Linked DNA regions of Homo sapiens. The protein of the gene in region 2 interacts with the protein of the main gene of each other region in a pairwise test. Each region holds a gene or a part of one and is shown on either strand. Other genes may lie near its edges.

Evidence for each region.
Region 1: the proteins of CRELD1 (region 2) and ADRA1A interact in binary tests that used the Homo sapiens proteins (3 or more experiments, as listed by UniProt).

What each region holds. Positions count from the first base shown.
Region 1 is NC_000008.11:26,768,068-26,773,322, forward strand, and holds the end of ADRA1A (alpha-1A adrenergic receptor), read right to left. Parts: intron 2,600-5,255; coding exon 2,082-2,599; 3' UTR 742-2,081; downstream 1-741. UniProt on the Homo sapiens protein: This alpha-adrenergic receptor mediates its action by association with G proteins that activate a phosphatidylinositol-calcium second messenger system. Its effect is mediated by G(q) and G(11) proteins.
Region 2 is NC_000003.12:9,936,677-9,943,961, reverse strand, and holds part of CRELD1 (protein disulfide isomerase CRELD1 isoform 2 precursor), read right to left. Parts: intron 6,401-7,285; coding exon 6,290-6,400; intron 5,948-6,289; coding exon 5,856-5,947; intron 3,113-5,855; coding exon 2,936-3,112; intron 2,852-2,935; coding exon 2,756-2,851; intron 1,150-2,755; coding exon 1,066-1,149; exon of another isoform or gene 1,065-1,065; intron 886-1,064; coding exon 790-885; intron 582-789; coding exon 447-581; intron 288-446; coding exon of another isoform or gene 211-287; exon of another isoform or gene 73-210; coding exon of another isoform or gene 1-72. UniProt on the Homo sapiens protein: Protein disulfide isomerase. Promotes the localization of acetylcholine receptors (AChRs) to the plasma membrane.

The DNA.
Region 1 (5,255 bases), on a different chromosome or scaffold from region 2:
AGAAGACACTCTTCAGAAAAAGGCTGAAAAAACAGTCACACTCCAGGTCTAAATACAACCTATAACAAAACCCAAATCCACATGCAAACATACCCTCCATTGCAATGTGGAAAGAGATTTGGTTTTAAGAAGAATTTAAGGAAATTATCATTTTGCTGCAAGAGAAGAAGAAAAAGATGTTGAGGCCGCTACTCTTGCTGTGAAGGTTACAGCTGCTTTGAATTTGTTAGAGGAAATTACCCTAATAGAGGAAAGAGGCCAGGCAAATGGTCTTTAGTTTTAGACCACTGATTGTTGTCGAGAATTATTCCAAAAACTTAAATTCTATTTTAAATCCTTATTGTGAAAAGACAGCCATATTTTAATTTTTACTTATAGTTACCATCTTCATCCTTAGTAATCTATAGCTTGAGCAGCCCTAATCCGAAAATCTGAAATCCGAAATGCTCTAAGATCCGAGATTGTTTGAGCACCGACATGACGCCACAGGTGGGGAATTCCACACCTGACCTCATGTCTATGGGTTGCAGTCAAAAACAGTCAATTAAAAATATTGTATAAAATTACCCTCAGGCTATGCATATGAGGTGTATATGAAACATAAATGAATTTTGTGTTTAGACTTGGGTCCCATCCCAGAGATATTTGATTATGTATATGCAAGTATTTCAAAATTTGAAAAAATCTGTAATCTGAAACACTTCTGGTTCCAGGCATTTCAGAAAAGAGATACACAAGTTCTGTACTGAGTTATTATGGTTTACCAAAATTTGGTATACATAAAGCAAAATATAGCATGTTCCCCAAGCTCTTGCAGAAAAGTAGGAATAGATGAAGTTGAGTTGACTACTGGATCTTTTACCAGAACAAATGGCCTTCTATCAAAAAATGTTTGCAAACTCCTGCGTTAGACAGTTCTTTGGTGATCCATCAGTATTGTCTGAAGCTAAGCATTAGTATTTTTCAAAGTTCGGGAATAATGTACTTGGATCATAAGGCTCATTCCAACATGCCACAGGTGAAGCTCATTCATTATGCAATAGTGAAGCAGATAAGAAGTAATGGGAGACAATCTTTTGCCTTTCAAAATATTATAAGCTCTGGATTTTCATAACAGAGTTCTGGAACAGGTAAGTGATTTGTCAAGAAAGGCTTTTGTAAGCCATGTTGAAATGGCTGTGCAGTAAGTGAACAGCCTCTATCTTTGCAAGAAATTAACAGCCACACCAACCTCTTGCTCTTTAAAGATATTAGAGAGAAAGCCTATCATCATCTGATCTTGGAACTGTTTAATGGATTTTCTCTCTAGTAGTTAAATTGAAAGAATGATGCTCAGGTCTATTGTTTTCTCTTGGGAAAAGCCATACCACCCTGGTTGGTTCTTTCAACCCTCTCCTGACCCAAGGATAGAGAACACTACATTCCAAGACATCATGAGTGCCCCTCACTCTCATCTTTGGGAAATGAGGAGCAGCATCCATTCAAAGTGCAGTCAAAGGTAAACCTCACTGCCAAGTTTCCCTCAAGCTGAGAAATTGGATGTATCAGAAAGGGTGGAGTTTCAGGACTTGCTCTAAAAATAATGTGTCTGGATCTCGGCCACCATCTTAATGCTCTTCCTCTCTAGGCCCTCTCCCCATAAATGTCAAATGTGGCTGTCAGTAGGTTGAGCCTGAAAATAAAATCCCCTCACTTCCATCAAGAAATAGCTCCAAACTTAGAGTGTGTGCTCAAAATATTCATGATGAAATCATAATCCTATATTTATAGTCTTTTGGATTGTGCATGAAATTCTGTTTCCCATGGTGGTTTTCGTTGAAGTGGGCACAGAGTGACCAAGAAAGCATTAGCTGCAGGGAAATGCTGTTCCGTATCATTCTGAACTGGTTGGTTGTGAGACACCCTCCCTCTTCCCTGTGCCCTACCCGCTGCCTGATGAGTTGGGTCTACCACCCACCCCATTCCCAGCAGGTCCCCTCTTTGATTGGTCCTGTCTTGTCCTCCAAGAAGAGCTGGCCTTCCGAGAAGGAAGTGGGGTGGGTACCTAAGATTATTCCCCTTTCCTCTGCATCTTTCCTGTCCTAGACTTCCTCCCCGTTCTCACTGAGGGAGATGGTGTGGACCTTAATGGTTGGAACTTGATGGTTCTTGTCAAGGCTGGGGGTTGAGGGCCCTACACAGCAGCAGACCTGCAAAAAGCTTTTACTTCTCACCCGGGCTGTGGTACAGGAGGATTGGTCTTTGGACACTGTAATCCTGGCAGATCCACGGGGCATGGAAGAGAAAAATTTCCATTCACAAACGCCATCCGTCTTGGAGATCCTGTAGAAGGTCTCTCTTGATCCCACGGGGATGCGCACCATGTCCTTGTGTTGCCCTTCCACGGCCTGGCTGGGCGGGTGCAGGGTGTAGCCCAGGGCATGTTTGGAAGACTGCTTTCTGCAGAGACACTGGATTCTCAAGACATTCTGAAAGGCCTTTTTGAACTCTTGGCTGGAGCATGGGTATATGATGGGGTTGATGCAGCTGTTTAGATATCCGAGCCAAAATACTATTTTAAAAACTGTTTCAGAGGGCTTGAAATCAGGGAAGAAAGACCCTGGAAGAAAACACACAGATTTATACATATTATTTGAAAGCCAGCAAGCCAATTGGCTAGGAAAACAATCAAACAGACATCTTTCTGTATTTTTAAACGGTTAAAATGATCCCAAACACATATGAGTTTCTCACATTTGACTGACTAGCTCCTATGACTGTCACCCTTTTGCAATATCTTCAAAGACCATTCCTACTTGGTCCGCGTGTGTCATTAATTACAGGAGCAGGCCCAGTGGGTAGGGTTGCACTGGCTCTCAGTGACCAACAGCTGCTGTGAAGTTTTACCAAATGAAAATGTGAAACTCAGACTGAGTCCACATATGTAAATTGTTTTGCCTAAATTGAAAAGTAAGTTGGAATCCATGCAAGTAATCCATATTAAAATTCGGTTATCTGAACATGCCCTTTATTCTCTGATGCAGTGTTATGCAACAGACACAGCCTCAGTGTTTATGAATTCCTCCCCTCCCAAATGTTAGAATTATGGATTTTGATGAGAATCTCAACTTTACACAATATTGGCCTTGCCAAAGTTGGGCCAGTGATTCTCAATCACTTTTCCTAGATGATGTCTTTTGATGTCACCGTTAGCTCCCTTTGTCAATATCCCTCGATGTCTCCCAAATGTGTGTCTTTGCTTCACATTCGGAGTCCTCCACAGCCTCTGGTCTAACCAGCTTTCTAATATGACTAGTTGCTATTTTTTCTCTAGCCAGACTCACTACACTTTTTCTCCAGGTCATTGATCATTTTTTTTGTCCTCTCAAGTTGGGCCACTGTGTCCTTGATGCCCTTTTCCACCTTCTCTACCTACCCAAACCCTACCCGTTGATGTGCACGGCAGGAACCAGGCCTCAGGACCCGTCACATCCTGCGCAGAGACTGCCACAGGGCATTTCGCAGCAGAAGAACAAAACTGTGAAGTCTTAAAATGGAACAACCTTAAGGATTATCTCCTCCAATTACTCAATTTACAAATTTAAAAAATGCTTATTTAGCCTTTTCCCAGCTGCCGCCAAGATGCTCTGCCCTTCTGAGCTGAGGCTGCGTTGGGGTCAGGCCCTCACTGCATCCAGCACTAGCACTACTCCGGGCAGCCCAGCCTTGCACTTGTCCACACCACGGACTCCATCTCAGAGCTCGCCTGCACTGACTCAGCCCTCATTCTGTATAACGCTGAGGGGATCATCACATAGGATAAGGTCAATGTCGTTTCTAAAGCAGCTGGGGTAAATGATGACGGCTTTTGGCCTGGCTTGTCTGCCAAGGCCCTGGCCATCGTCAACTTCGGGAGCCTCCTCTGCAGTGGAGGGGCGGGGTGGGAAGACCTGCTCAGCAGCTGGTGGTGTACCTGCGGGAGGTCCTGCCCTTCTGTCACTGTGGCCTAGGCCGAGAAGAAGAAGGTGGAAGCAAAGAAAGAAGAATCTGGAGTCTGATGATAATATGGGCTTTTTTTTTTTTTTTTTGAGTAAACCTATTTTATAACACGTTCAATAAAAAGCTGAACTCTTAAAAATGCTTATTAAAGAGATTGTCACAAACCTCATAGCTACAATACTGATAAGAGTGATGGATAAAGGGTATGGGACTCCCAATCCAATGTTCTTTATTCTCTGATTCTCAGACTTCCAAGGGCTTTTGCTAAAGGAGCTTTATGAATTATGAAATCCCAAACGTCCCTCTTCACTCCTTTCAGAGAAATTGCAAAATAACATCTTGACTTTCCTTCCACCTCCTTTCTTTTCTTTCTTGGCTCCCAAGCTCCTTTTCCTTCTCCGCGGGCTTTTAGTCACAGCTTCGTGTACAGTTGGTAGAATGGCTTTGGGAAACTCCTATGATGCCTTTGGGCCTCCAGTTTTCTTATCTGAAAAAGGAGTATGTTGAATGGATGATTCCTAATGGCCCTGAACAATTTTTTTGTTGCTGTTGTTTCAAACCTAAGGTCTTGATTTTATGTCTTTCTTTTCCTCTCTGCTCTGTGGACCTATCAGAGCCGTGACAAATTGCTGGTGCTATTAAAATCCACTCTGGCAAACAGTGCTCTGAAATTAAGTCAAAAAGCTCATCAATATAAACAAAGAGTAAACTTAAATACTGAAGAACCCAAAGAAGACACAATAGTGTGGTTGTTGATGGGAGCATTTATTACCTCTGAAGCACACTCCCTGCTAAGTTCCATGTGTCTCAAATTCACACACACACACACACACACACAATGGGTGTTTATTTGGAAAACATGTAAAGTGAGAAAGTTTTATTCTTTAGCTCTAAAGCTTTTCATGTTGTCCTATAATTATAATAAAGTTTACAGTCTTTGAATGCCTGATTTGAAACAGGCAAGGCACTGTGCTGAACACTTTCCATATGATTTAATCATCGTTAGTAACATGAAGAGTTATGTGACTCTTCCCTATTTTACAAATGAAGAAACTGTGGCTTAATGAGTTTGAGTAGCTCAACCGAGGTCACTCACATAGTTACTGGTAGGTTTGAAATTAGGCAGTGTGATTGATTTCAGGGCCCATGCTCCTTTGTGGAATCTCCAAATATACTGCAATAATACATCTCTTAGGAGGATAGCTGATGGGGAGTGATAAAGTGTGCAGCTGGGGGAAGCTGAATTGGAAAAATGCTTTTTCGAACCTCATCTGTGA
Region 2 (7,285 bases):
AACCCAACTTCCAGCGTCGGGTTGTTTCAGGGGTTAAATCAGTTAAGATGGGGAATGCACCTAGAACAGCATCTGACACAGTAATTGCTGGGGAAATGGTCCCTGCCATCATCGTTGTGATTACCCTGCATCTCACCACACCCCCGGCCTAGGACAGCTCTCAGCAGGCCAGGGCAAACACTGGTCCCATTGGATAGATGAGGAAACAGGTTAAGGAGGCAGACTGATTTGATGCCAGGTCTGATTCCCTTTGTACCCTGGAAGGTATAAGGCTGCTGAGAGCCAACCTGGAGATCAGATGTAGAGCCCGGTCTCAGTGCAGCCTCCAGGGGGCTGGGTGGCAGTAGGGATGGGGCAGGGCCTGGAGCTGCCACTGCTACCTGGGGAAGGGGCTTGCCTGCCTTCTCTTTGAATGAGGACCTCCCCTCTCCCGCCCCAGGGCTCACCTGGGATCTGCTCCTTCACACAGATGCCTTCCATCTGCTTGTAGCCCTCGGCACAGATGCAGCGATAACCGCCCTCGGTGTTTTCACACTGCTTGTTCTCTCCCGGACACACCTCTGTCTCACACTCATCCACATCTTGAGGGGAGGGAGGGGTCAGAGTCCTGCTAGGGCCCCCCACCCAGCACCCTGACTCCATCTTGTCCATCTCTCAACACTCCCCTCTGCCCTTGCCCAGGCAACATTCCACCCTTCCTTCCCCCACCTGCCCATATTCCAGCCTCTTCACCATTCATGCTGGGTGAGGCACTCCCAGGTGCCTGTGTCCCATCAGCAGGAGACTCACCGAGACACTTGGAGCCCACCTGCTGATAGCCAGGGCTACACTTCTTACAGCGACCTGGCCCTGCCCCCATGCAGCCTAGGCAGGCCTTGGCACAGTCTGGAGAGAGGAGAGAAAGATGAGGGTGAGATGTGCACCTAGGCCCAGGGGAGCCACGCTCCAGAAGCGGAGGCCTGGGGGTGCTCTGAAGCCTGAGAAGGGGAAGGTTTGGAGGGACAGGTGTGGAGCAGCTCTTCCTCCACTCCTCACGTCCCCTCCTCTGCAGAAGTAGACACTGACCTCGGCACTCATAGGAGCCCTCAGTGTTCACGCAGAATTGGTCAGCTCCACAGTTGGCTCCCTCTGTGCCACACTCATCAATGTCTGCAGAGAGGTGAGCAGGGTGAGAATTTCAATCCCTATTTAGTAGGGAAGCTGAAGCCAGAGCCGTTGGGGAATGGTCTTGCCTGGGATTAAATGGTATGGCAGAGACTGCAAGCTGTCTACCAACACAGAAGCAGACTAGCTGGACTTCAGGCTGCCCAGCCAGAGACCACATTTGCCAACCTGTCTTGAAGCTAAGTGTGTCCCTGTGATTGAGTTCTGGCCAACAGGATGTAAACAGGAGTGATGAGCTCCACCGTTAGCTTGGTCTTAAAACAATGCTTGGACTCCTCAATGCACTTTCTTTCCCTTCTCCCTTCCTGAGTGCTGGCATGTGGGACACAGAGATGCCCAGGACTCAGCTTCAACCATGCAGACAACGCCCAAGGGGATGATTGTGCAGTAAGTTACAGGAATAATCTGGGTACTGGAATGATTATGACTAGCAGAGCTCCCCTGCCAGCCTGGACTACTCACTTTGGGACTGTAATATGATAAAAAAAAATAAACCTCTACCCTCTAGATTCTTTTTTTTTTTTTTGAGATGGAGTTTCGCTCTTGTCACCCAGGCTAGAGTGCAATGGTGTGATCTTGGCTCACTGCAACCTCTGCCTCCTGGATTCAAGCGACTCTCCTGCCTCTGCCTCCCGAGTAGCTGGGATTACAGGCACCTGCCACCATGCCTGGCTAAATTTTTGTATTTTTAGTACAGACAGGGTTTTGCCATGTTGGCCAGGCTGGTCTCGAACTCCTGACCTCAGGTGATCCACCCCACTTCAGCCTCTCAAAGTGCTGGGATTAGAGGCGTGAGTGAGCTACCACACCCAGCCAACCTCTATACTCTTTAAGCCACAGTCTTTTGGGGATTTTTGTTACAGCAGCTTAGCCTTTACTTTAGTCTATATAAGTGGCTAGGCTGGGACCAAACCAAGTCTTGAACCCAGGTTTCCTGACCCCAAGTTCAGTGTCCTCATTCTCCTAGCCAACCCTTCCTCATTTTTTTTTTTTTTTTTTTTTTTTTTTGAGATGGAGTCTCCCTCTGTTGCCCAGACTGGAGTGCAGTGGTGCGATCTCGGCTCACTGCAAGCTCCGCCTCCCAGGTTCATGCCCTTCTCCTGCCTCAGCCTCCTGAGTAGCTGGGACTACAGGCACCCGCCACCACGCCCAGCTAATTTTTTGTATTTTTAGTTGAGACAGGGTTTCACCATGTTAGCCAGGATGGTCTCGATCTCCTGATCTCATGATCTGCCCGCCTTGGCCTCCCAAAGTGCTGGGATTACAGGCGTGAGCCACCGCGCCCAGCCCCTTCCTCAATTTTTAGGACTTGGCCAAAGTAACGCCTCCTCCAAGAAGCCTTTCCTGATTCCCCATCACCACTTCCACTGAACTAGATCAGAGGCATCTCTCACTGTACACAGGGACTATACTACACAGTACCTGTGTACTGGACTGTAAGTATCTGGTTACTTTTCTGCCTTCCCAGCCAGGTTGAGATCTCCATGAAGGTGGAGACTAGGCTAGTCTAGCCCAGGCTTGTGTTGAGAGAATAAAGGACCAAGCCCAGGCCCCTGACCATCTTCCCAGACCTAGCTAGGGCCCCACTTACCTACACACTTGAGGTGATGCAGGGCCCAGCCCTTCTTGCATTGCAAACAGTTTGATTCCTCAGGTCCTGAGCATCGGGCACAGGGGCCAAAACAAGCTGGGTGGAATGGGGGCAGCATGAGGATGGGCAGGCAGGTGCCCCATCTGCCCCTGCCCAGTGCCACACCTTTTGGCTACCTACCCGAACATACCAGATGGCTGGCGTTGCGTTCTGCCTCAAAGTAGCCAAGGCCACACTGGCCACAGGCCTCACCCCCGTAGCCGGCTTGGCAGTCACAGTGCCCGCTGCCCCCTCGTGTCCCTTCTCCTTCACACTGCCCGTAGCCACCGCAGGGCCTCTCTGTTCCCCCAGGACAGGCTGTGGGAAGACACCAAACCAGGTGAGGTCATCTATACAACCTTGATATACAAGATAATATTTTCTCCCTCTCCCTCTCCCTCTCCCTTGCCTTCCCTCCCTCCCCCCCTCCCCTCCCCCTCCCCCTTTCCCTCTCCCTCTCCCCATGGCCTCCCTCTCCCTCTCCCCATGGTCTCCCTCTCCCTCTCTTTACACGGTCTCCCTCTGATGCCAAGCTGAAGCTGGACTGTACTGCTGCCATCTCGGCTCACTGCAACCTCCCTGCCTGATTCTCCTGCCTCAACCTGCCGAGTGCCTGCGATTGCAGGCGCGCGCCACCACGCCTGACTGGTTTTCGTATTTTTTTGGTGGAGACGGGGTTTCGCTGTGTTGGCCGGGCCGGTCTCCAGCTCCTAAACGCGAGTGATCCGCCAGCCTCGGCCTCCCGAGGTGCCGGGATTGCAGACGGAGTCTCGTTCACTCAGTGCTCAATGGTGCCCAGGCTGGAGTGCAGTGGCGTGATCTCGGCTCGCTACAACCTCCACCTCCCAGCCGCCTGCCTTGGCCTCCCAAAGTGCCGAGATTGCAGCCTCTGCCCGGCCACCACCCCGTCTGGGAAGTGAGGAGCGTCTCTGCCTGGCGGCCCATCGTCTGGGATATGAGGAGCCTCTCTGCCAGGCTGCCCAGTCTGGAAAGTGAGGAGCGTCTCTGCCCGGCCGCCATCCCATCTAGGAAGTGAGGAGCGTCTCTGCCCGGCCGCGACCCCGTCTGGGAGGTGAGGAGCGTCTCTGCCCGGCCGCCCTGTCTGAGAAGTGAGGAGCCCCTCCGCCCGGCAGCCGCCCCGTCTGGGAAGTGAGAAGTGTCTCCGCCGGGCAGCCAGCCCGTCCGGGAGGGAGGTGAGGGGGTCAGCCCCCCGCCCGGCCAGCCGCCCCGTCCGGGAGGTGAGGGGCGCCTCTGCCCGGCTGCCCCTACTGGGAAGTGAGGAGCCCCTCTGCCCGGCCACCACCCCGTCTGGGAGGTGTACCCAACAGCTCATTGAGAACGGGCCAGGATGACAATGGCGGTTTTGTGGAATAGAAAAGGGGGAAAGGTGGGGAAAACACTGAGAAATCGGATGGTTGCTGTGTCTGTGTAGAAAGAAGTAGACACGGGAGACTTTTCATTTTGTTCTGTACTAAGAAAAATTCTTCTGCCTTGGGATCCTGTTGATCTATGACCTTATCCCCAACCCTGTGCTCTCTGAAACATGTGCTGTGTCCACTCAGGGTTAAATGGATTAAGGGCGGTGCAAGATGTGCTTTGTTAAACAGATGCTTGAAGGCAGCATGCTGGTTGAGAGTCATCACCACTCCTTGATCTCAAGTACCCAGGGACACAAACACTGCGGAAGGCCGCAGGGTCCTCTGCCTAGGAAAACCAGAGACCTTTGTTCACTTGTTTATCTGCTGACCTTCCCTCCACTATTGTCCTATGACCCTGCCAAATCCCCCTCTGGGAGAAACACCCAAGAATGATCAATAAAAAAGACAAAAAAACAAAAAAAACAAGATAATATTTTCTGCTCTGCATATCAGTAAACATTTTTGGAGAAGAAAATTAATTTTAATGACATAATATTTTGTCATAAAACTGACATTTACTTAACCAATTTCCTCTTGTGGAACAATTAGATTTTACAGACCTTTTATTTATTTATTTATTTATTTATTTATTTATTTATTTATTTATTTTTAGTGACAGGGTCTCGCTCTGTTTCCCAGGCAATGACATGATCATAGCTCACTGCAGCTTCGAACTCCTGGGCTCAAGCAATCCTCCCACCTCAGCCTAGGGGAACAACAGGCTGCACTACCATGCCCCACTATTTTTTTTTTAAGAGACAGGGTCTTGCTCTACTACCCAGGCTGGTCTCTCAAACTCCTGGCCTCAAGTGATCCTCCTGCCTCAGCCTCCCAAAGTGCTGGGTTTACAGGTACGAGCCACTGGACCAAATATTTTCTTTTTTTTTTTTGAGACAGAGTCTCGCTCTGTCGCCCAGGCTGGAGTGCAGTGGCATGATCTCGGCTCACTGCAAGCTCCGCCTGCCGGGTTCATGCCATTCTTCTGCCTCAGCCTCCAGAGTAGCTGGGACTAGAGGCGCCCGCCACCATGCCCGGCTAATTTTTTGTATTTTTTAGTAGAGACGGTGTTTCACCATGATAGCCACGATGGTCTCGATCTCCTGACCTCATGATCCACCCACCGCAGCCTCCCAAAGTGTTGGGATTACAGGTGTGAGCCACCGCGCCCAGCCAATATTTTCTTTTACAAAGACTGAATTTGCCATCTTTGTAGCTAGCTCTTTATCTGTAGCTTCAGGAAAGACTGCTCTAAAAGAGGCTGGTAGTAAGTTCAGCTCTTGTGCCAGGACTGTGTGTGAGGATGGATGGCGATCATGGAGGCTCCAGGTCAGCACCCGCCCCTCCCCAGGAAGGTACCATAGTCCGATCTGGCATGGGAAATGAAGGGGCTGGGAAGTCTATCATTTCTTTAGTACATGATGATAACTATACTGCATATGACTCAGTCTAGCCCCTGTGCTTTCTCCAAGCCTTTCCCCACTGATTTGCCCATCTCCCCAGCCCTGTCAGGCAGGCAAGAACTGAGGTCCAGAGAAGTTTATCTGAGTAGCCTGAGTTCACACAGCGAACTAGGGACAGAGCCAGGACTGGATCCCTGGACTCGGTGGTCCCCTCCCATCCCCAAGAGCAACTTAAAAACTCACGAAGGCAGGAGGGCCCGAAGGTGCCTGCGGGGCAGCAGAGCTTCAGGGAATCTGAGCACAGCCACTGGAAGAGGTCCGGGGCCTCCTGCTGCCTGAGGCAGGGGCAGGGTGGAGGGAGGTGGGGAGGAGGTGCTGAGATAGTGTCATAAGTGCTGTTCCCATTCCCCCATGCCTGAATCTGTGATTCAACCCAGCTTGGACATAAGACCCAAAAGGCCATCTGACCAATGCCCTTTCCCCATTTGGCAGAAGGGTAAACTGAGGCTCAAAGTGGAGCGCAAGTCCCCCGGCAAGTTCTTAGCAGACCTGGGTTTGGAAGGAGCACAACCAGGACATGGGCCCCAGCATGCACCCCCCTGCTTCTCGGCCAAATCAGGCCTTATCACCAGGCCTCACCTGTGACCCACTTCCAGGGAAGGCCCTTTGCCACTCACTTGTGAAACCACCAGCTCTCCACCAGCTCCTCACTCAGCTCCAGCAGGCGGTGGCACTCGAAGTCTGACTTGCTGCACACACCCTCCAGCACCTCTACCAGGCGGGTCTCACTGATCGGACAGGGCAGGGCTGGTGGGAAACATGCCCCACCCCACCCACCACCCTCCTCAAGTCTCTCTCCACCCTTCCTCGTGCGGTGAAAATATCAAAGGAGAGGCCATGAGGTATAATGGAAGGGGTCATGGTTCTGGGAAGCAGAGAGACCTGGGTTCAAATCTAGTGGTAGATCTAGTGGGCAAGTCACTTAACCTCTCTGAACCTCTTTGTTTTGTCATCTGTAAAATGGGGATGACAATACCTTCCCTGCAGGTTTGTTGTAACATACATCAGTTCCTGCATCTGAGCAATGGAATATAATACCCTTGCTGGGTAGATATGGCTAAAAATACATCCTATAACAAGTGTTGGCAGGGATGTGGAGAAATTAGAATCCTCCCACACTGCAGGTGGGAATACAAAATGGCATCACCACTGTGGAAAAGCAGTTCCTCAATAAGTAAAACATGGAATTGCCATAGGACCTGCCAATTCCACTACTGGATATAGACCCAAAAGAATGGAAAACAGGTGTTCAAACGAAAACTTGTAGACAATGTTCATAGCAGCACTATTCACAACAGCCAAAAGGTAGAAACAATGCAGATGTCCATCAACTGATGCATGGTTAAACAAAATGTGGTACAGCCAAATGAGAATATTATTCAGCCATAAAAAGGAATAAGTATTGATATATGCTACGGTATGGGTGAACCTTGAAAACATTATGCTAAGTGAAACTAGCCAGACACAAAAGGCCACATATTTTATGATTCCAATGAAATCAGCAAATCCATAATTTCTGCTTGACTAACACAAATTAGTGATTGCCAAGAGCCGAGGGAAGGGGAGAATAGGGAGTGGCTGTGTAATAGGTATAGGATTTTTTGGGGGGGTAA